2 linked regions of the Homo sapiens genome follow. Each later gene encodes a partner of the first gene's protein in a complex. Each region holds a gene or a part of one and is shown in the gene's direction. Other genes may lie near its edges.

The links.
Region 2: DKC1 (region 1) and TERT share a complex: the UniProt entries of both Homo sapiens proteins name them as parts of the telomerase holoenzyme complex.

The regions. Positions count from the first base shown.
Region 1 is NC_000023.11:154,775,500-154,778,471, forward strand, and holds the end of DKC1 (H/ACA ribonucleoprotein complex subunit DKC1), read left to right. Parts: intron 1-687; coding exon 688-825; intron 826-1,299; coding exon 1,300-1,368; 3' UTR 1,369-2,190; downstream 2,191-2,972.
Region 2 is NC_000005.10:1,281,464-1,285,272, reverse strand, and holds part of TERT (telomerase reverse transcriptase), read left to right. Parts: intron 1-2,648; coding exon 2,649-2,844; intron 2,845-3,809. UniProt on the Homo sapiens protein: Telomerase is a ribonucleoprotein enzyme essential for the replication of chromosome termini in most eukaryotes. Active in progenitor and cancer cells. Inactive, or very low activity, in normal somatic cells.

The DNA.
Region 1 (2,972 bases):
GGGCTCAGGAATCAGATGGGCCTCGACTCCTACCTCAGCTATGGCAGCAACACAGTGATGGAATGGGTGGTGGTGTGTGTGTCAATTCTGGCCCCCGCCCTGGGTCAAATGGTAGGACAGATGTGTTGAAATCAGAGGCCATGGCTGTTGGACATTCGAGGCCATACAAAATTCAGCAGAGAGCAGAATTGCATCTTAACCTGGCACCACCCAGTGTTGAAAGAGTCAGTCAAGCATGGGTTGGCAACTCCACCCCATGGAGCTGCTGGCATTAGAGCACAGAATGACAGGTCTGCACTCAGAAACCGGGGGCGGTACTGAGTATCCTGCACAGGCTGTGTGGGAGGAGCTTCTGACTTGTCAGATGTGAATTCCTGCTTTGCCTGCTTTCTGTGAGAGGTCCTTGCAGTCATGAGAGAAACAGCTCCTCCGGGCCTTTCCACCCCAAGCCCCGTGCTGCTGCTGTGCTCCTTCTCTTGTGCCTGCCTCAAGGCTTCTTGGATTTGGGGGATGAGACTGTCTTCAAATCCTCAGTAAACTAAGGCCCTGTCCGGGTTTGTAGTCAGAAAACGTCCTGTTAGATTCAGTTGGGATCTTTCTTGGTGCCTTGCTACCTTTTGACTCACTGAACCTTTCTTGTCCATTATTGCCCAAGATCTAACACTTAACCAATTGCTTTCATCTCAGCGGAAGCGAGAGAGTGAGAGTGAAAGTGACGAGACTCCTCCAGCAGCTCCTCAGTTGATCAAGAAGGAAAAGAAGAAGAGTAAGAAGGACAAGAAGGCCAAAGCTGGTCTGGAGAGCGGGGCCGAGCCTGGAGATGGGGTGTGTGGAAACACGTTCAGGTTCCTTGGGCTGGCTTAGTCCCTGCGTGGGGAAAGAATTACCCAGGTGGTACCAGCTTTGTTACTCTTCTTGGAGGAGCTGTGGCCTGGGGGTGGGATGCCACCGAGTGCCTTTAGTGCTTCCCCATGTTCCTGGAGTGCTTTTGCCCTCCCTGTGGAATGGACAGATAGAGGCACCCGACCTCTACCACTTATACTTAGAGCTCTATTGATGGTGGGTGGAGAGGATGTGTAGGATGGTGATCTGAATGTTTCCACTTCCAAAAGTAGACCACTAGGGTGTCACTGAAAGGTTTACAGAACTTTGTGTCACATGCAGCATTTAACCCAAAATATCCTTACAGGTCCTGAAAAAGGCTTGCTTGACTGTGGACCTTTACCAGATTTCCTTCTGGGAGAGTCATAGCTTTGTTAGTGGATGGTATCTGTGAGCTTTCATTCTCTTTCTTTCTAGGACAGTGATACCACCAAGAAGAAGAAGAAGAAGAAGAAAGCAAAAGAGGTAGAATTGGTTTCTGAGTAGTGAAGGCCACTTGAAGCTGGAGGAGAAACTAAAGCCTTATTGAGAAAACATGTTATAGATCCTTTTGTTGCTGAGAGAGTGGAACATAGGTCCTAGACAGGGTGAAGAGTTCTGGCACATTTTAGCTGCTACTTTGAGACCTCGGTGATGTTACCTGGTGTGGTCATCCCATCTTGTCCTGTTTTAAGGATATGGGTGGTGAAAGATGAAAGAGGCAGAGTTTATCCCAATGACTTCTCTGTTTGAGTTGGGAAGCCTCACCTTCAGACCCAGTAACTGTCCGCAGCTGTCTGCTAGTGGTTGTCTTAACATCGTAGTCCTAGTTTGCATTTTTTAAATCCCCTCTGTTTAAAAGGTTTGTAAAACAAAAACAAAAAACTAAGTCTGCTCAGTGAAATGCTGTAGAACCCTAAATAAGTGGTAGAAGAGTGTCACTGAATTTTGTCTCTGAATTCAGTATAACTGAGTTTTGTCCATGCTGGTGTCTGGGTTATAGGCCTGATGGGCCTGGTAGTTTTCCATCTTGTTCTGGCCTAGAGGTCAGTCCTTTGCACTTCCTCAAAGCTTGTGTACAGTGCTCACCTAAATCCATCTGACTACTTGTTCCTGTGCCCTCTTGTTTTAGGCCTCGTTTACTTTTAAAAAATGAAATTGTTCATTGCTGGGAGAAGAATGTTGTAATTTTTACTTATTAAAGTCAACTTGTTAAGTTTTTTATGTATTCCTGTTGGGTTTTCTTGTTGATCTCATGCTAGCAGAGCAAAAATTGTAAAATATTTTGATTAAAAATCTAGGGACCTTTATGTCCTATTTGAAATGTGATGCTTTTATGTTTGTTTTCTGGTTTTTACATTTTTGTTCTGTATCTTACACAATCCACCTTGGGCCCTGTCATCTGATGTGAGATCAAGTACTCAGAGGCAGTGATTACCACAAAACCACTGATCTCTAGAAGAACAGAGAAGGAGAGGGTTAATGTATTTATACATAGTGGGCCTGGCAGGAGCGGGGGGCAGGGTGAGTCGGGAGAACGAAGCTGAGGGTGGGGACATGCAGGAATCTGAAGGCCTTGGTGACAGATTAGTGGAAGAAAGGTCTAGGGTTGCTTCCGATTTGGTATTAAGAACCAAGAAAGAGGCCGGGTGCAATGGCTCACACCTATAATCCCAGTGCTTTGGGAGGCTGAGGCGGGCAGATCACCCGAGGTCAGGAGTCTGAGACCAGCCTGGGCCAACATGGCAAAACCCATCTCTACTACAAATACAAAAATTAGCCAGGTGTGGTGGCGTGTGCCTGTAATCCCAGCTACTCGGGAGGCTGAGGCAGGAGAATCCCCTGGAACCTGGGAGGTGGAGGTTGCAGTGAGCCGAGATCCTGCCACTGCACTCCAGCCTGGCAAAACAGACTGTCTCAAAAAAAAAAAAAAAAAAAAAAAAAAAAAAGCGCTCTTGGATGCAGCGAGGCGAGGCCCTGAGCTGTAGCCATATCATGAGCCAGGCATGCAGGGTGGGCCCCAGCCCTGGCTCAGCGACCGGCCTCCACTGTACCACGGGACCCCAGGCTTGGATTTTCTCTCGTTCTAAATATGTGCCCACAATGAGCGC
Region 2 (3,809 bases), on another chromosome or scaffold:
TCCGGATGGTGCACGTCTGGGATGAGGTCGCCAGGCCCTGCTGTGAGCTGGATGTGTGGTGTCTGGATGGTGCAGGTCAGGGGTGAGGTCTCCAGGCCCTCGGTGAGCTGGAGGTATGGAGTCCGGATGATGCAGGTCCGGGGTGAGGTCGCCAGGCCCTGCTGTGAGCTGGATGTGTGGTGTCTGGATGGTGCAGGTCAGGGGTGAGGTCTCCAGGCCCTCGGTGAGCTGGAGGTATGGAGTCCGGATGATGCAGGTCCGGGGTGAGGTCGCCAGGCCCTGCTGTGAGCTGGATGTGTGGTGTCTGGATGGTGCAGGTCTGGGGTGAGGTCACCAGGCCCTGCGGTGAGCTGGGTGTGCGGTGTCTGGATGGTGCAGGTCTGGAGTGAGGTCGCCAGACGGTGCCAGACCGTGCGGTGAGCTGGATATGCGGTGTCCGGATGGTGCAGGTCTGGGGTGAGGTTGCCAGGCCCTGCTGTGAGTTGGATGTGGGGTGTCCGGATGCTGCAGGTCCGGTGTGAGGTCACCAGGCCCTGCTGTGAGCTGGATGTGTGGTGTCTGGATGGTGCAGGTCTGGGGTGAGGTCGCCAGGCCCTGCTGTGAGCTGGATGTGTGGTGTCTGGATGGTGCAGGTCTGGAGTGAGGTCGCCAGGCCCTCGGTGAGCTGGATGTGCAGTGTCCAGATGGTGCAGGTCCGGGGTGAGGTCGCCAGACCCTGCGGTGAGCTGGATGTGCGGTGTCTGGATGGTGCAGGTCTGGAGTGAGGTCGCCAGGCCCTCGGTGAGCTGGATGTATGGAGTCCGGATGGTGCCGGTCCGGGGTGAGGTCGCCAGACCCTGCTGTGAGCTGGATATGCGGTGTCCGGATGGTGCAGGTCAGGGGTGAGGTCTCCAGGCCCTCGGTGAGCTGGAGGTATGGAGTCCGGATGATGCAGGTCCGGGGTGAGGTCGCCAGGCCCTGCTGTGAGCTGGATGTGCGGCGTCTGGATGGTGCAGGTCTGGGGTGTGGTCGCCAGGCCCTCGGTGAGCTGGAGGTATGGAGTCCGGATGATGCAGGTCCGGGGTGAGGTCGCCAGGCCCTGCTGTGAGCTGGATGTGCGGCGTCTGGATGGTGCAGGTCTGGGGTGTGGTCGCCAGGCCCTCGGTGAGCTGGAGGTATGGAGTCCGGATGATGCAGGTCCGGGGTGAGGTTGCCAGGCCCTGCTGTGAGCTGGATGTGCTGTATCCGGATGGTGCAGGTCCGGGGTGAGGTCGCCAGGCCCTGCTGTGAGCTGGATGTGCTGTATCCGGATGGTGCAGGTCTGGGGTGAGGTCACCAGGCCCTGCGGTGAGCTGGTTGTGCAGTGTCCGGTTGCTGCAGGTCCGGGGTGAGTTCGCCAGGCCCTCGGTGAGCTGGATGTGCGGTGTCCCCGTGTCCGGATGGTGCAGGTCCAGGGTGAGGTCGCTAGGCCCTTGGTGGGCTGGATGTGCCGTGTCCGGATGGTGCAGGTCTGGGGTGAGGTCGCCAGGCCTTTGGTGAGCTGGATGTGCGGTGTCTGCATGGTGCATGTCTGGGGTGAGGTCGCCAGGCCCTTGGTGGGCTGGATGTGTGGTGTCCGGATGGTGCAGGTCCGGCGTGAGGTCGCCAGGCCCTGCTGTGAGCTGGATGTGCGGTGTCTGGATGGTGCAGGTCCGGGGTGAGGTAGCCAAGGCCTTCGGTGAGCTGGATGTGGGGTGTCCGGATGGTGCAGGTCCGGGGTGAGGTCGCCAGGCCCTGCGGTTAGCTGGATATGCGGTGTCCGGATGGTGCAGGTCCGGGGTGAGGTCACCAGGCCCTGCGGTTAGCTGGATGTGCGGTGTCTGGATGGTGCAGGTCCGGGGTGAGGTCGCCAGGCCCTGCTGTGAGCTGGATGTGCTGTATCCAGATGGTGCAGGTCCGGGGTGAGGTCGCCAGGCCCTGCAGTGAGCTGGATGTGCTGTATCCGGATGGTGCAGGTCTGGCGTGAGGTCGCCAGGCCCTGCGGTTAGCTGGATATGCGGTGTCGGATGGTGCAGGTCCGGGGTGAGGTCACCAGGCCCTGCGGTTAGCTGGATGTGTGGTGTCCGGATGGTGCAGGTCTGGGGTGAGGTCGCCAGGCCCTGCTGTGAGCTGGATGTGCTGTATCCGGATGGTGCAGGTCCGGGGTGAGGTCGCCAGGCCCTGCGGTGAGCTGGATGTGCTGTATCCGGATGGTGCAGGTCTGGCGTGAGGTCGCCAGGCCCTGCGGTGAGCTGGATGTGCAGTGTACGGATGGTGCAGGTCCGGAGTGAGGTCGCCAGGCCCTGCGGTGGGCTGTATGTGTGTTGTCTGGATGGTGCAGGTCCGGGGTGAGTTCGCCAGGCCCTGCGGTGAGCTGGATGTGTGGTGTCTGGATGCTGCAGGTCCGGGGTGAGTTCGCCAGGCCCTCGGTGAGCTGGATATGCGGTGTCCCCGTGTCCGAATGGTGCAGGTCCAGGGTGAGGTCGCCAGGCCCTTGGTGGGCTGGATGTGCCGTGTCCGGATGGTGCAGGTCTGGGGTGAGGTCGCCAGGCCCTTGGTGAGCTGGATGTGCGGTGTCCGGATGGTGCAGGTCCGGGGTGAGGTCACCAGGCCCTCGGTGATCTGGATGTGGCATGTCCTTCTCGTTTAAGGGGTTGGCTGTGTTCCGGCCGCAGAGCACCGTCTGCGTGAGGAGATCCTGGCCAAGTTCCTGCACTGGCTGATGAGTGTGTACGTCGTCGAGCTGCTCAGGTCTTTCTTTTATGTCACGGAGACCACGTTTCAAAAGAACAGGCTCTTTTTCTACCGGAAGAGTGTCTGGAGCAAGTTGCAAAGCATTGGAATCAGGTACTGTATCCCCACGCCAGGCCTCTGCTTCTCGAAGTCCTGGAACACCAGCCCGGCCTCAGCATGCGCCTGTCTCCACTTGCCTGTGCTTCCCTGGCTGTGCAGCTCTGGGCTGGGAGCCAGGGGCCCCGTCACAGGCCTGGTCCAAGTGGATTCTGTGCAAGGCTCTGACTGCCTGGAGCTCACGTTCTCTTACTTGTAAAATCAGGAGTTTGTGCCAAGTGGTCTCTAGGGTTTGTAAAGCAGAAGGGATTTAAATTAGATGGAAACACTACCACTAGCCTCCTTGCCTTTCCCTGGGATGTGGGTCTGATTCTCTCTCTCTTTTTTTTTTCTTTTTTGAGATGGAGTCTCACTCTGTTGCCCAGGCTGGAGTGCAGTGGCATAATCTTGGCTCACTGCAACCTCCACCTCCTGGGTTTAAGCGATTCACCAGCCTCAGCCTCCTAAGTAGCTGGGATTACAGGCACCTGCCACCACGCCTGGCTAATTTTTGTACTTTTAGGAGAGACGGGGTTTCACCATGTTGGCCAGGCTGGTCTCGAACTCATGACCTCAGGTGATCCACCCACCTTGGCCTCCCAAAGTGCTGGGTTTACAGGCTAAGCCACCGTGCCCAGCCCCCGATTCTCTTTTAATTCATGCTGTTCTGTATGAATCTTCAATCTATTGGATTTAGGTCATGAGAGGATAAAATCCCACCCACTTGGCGACTCACTGCAGGGAGCACCTGTGCAGGGAGCACCTGGGGATAGGAGAGTTCCACCATGAGCTAACTTCTAGGTGGCTGCATTTGAATGGCTGTGAGATTTTGTCTGCAATGTTCGGCTGATGAGAGTGTGAGATTGTGACAGATTCAAGCTGGATTTGCATCAGTGAGGGACGGGAGCGCTGGTCTGGGAGATGCCAGCCTGGCTGAGCCCAGGCCATGGTATTAGCTTCTCCGTGTCCCGCCCAGGCTGACT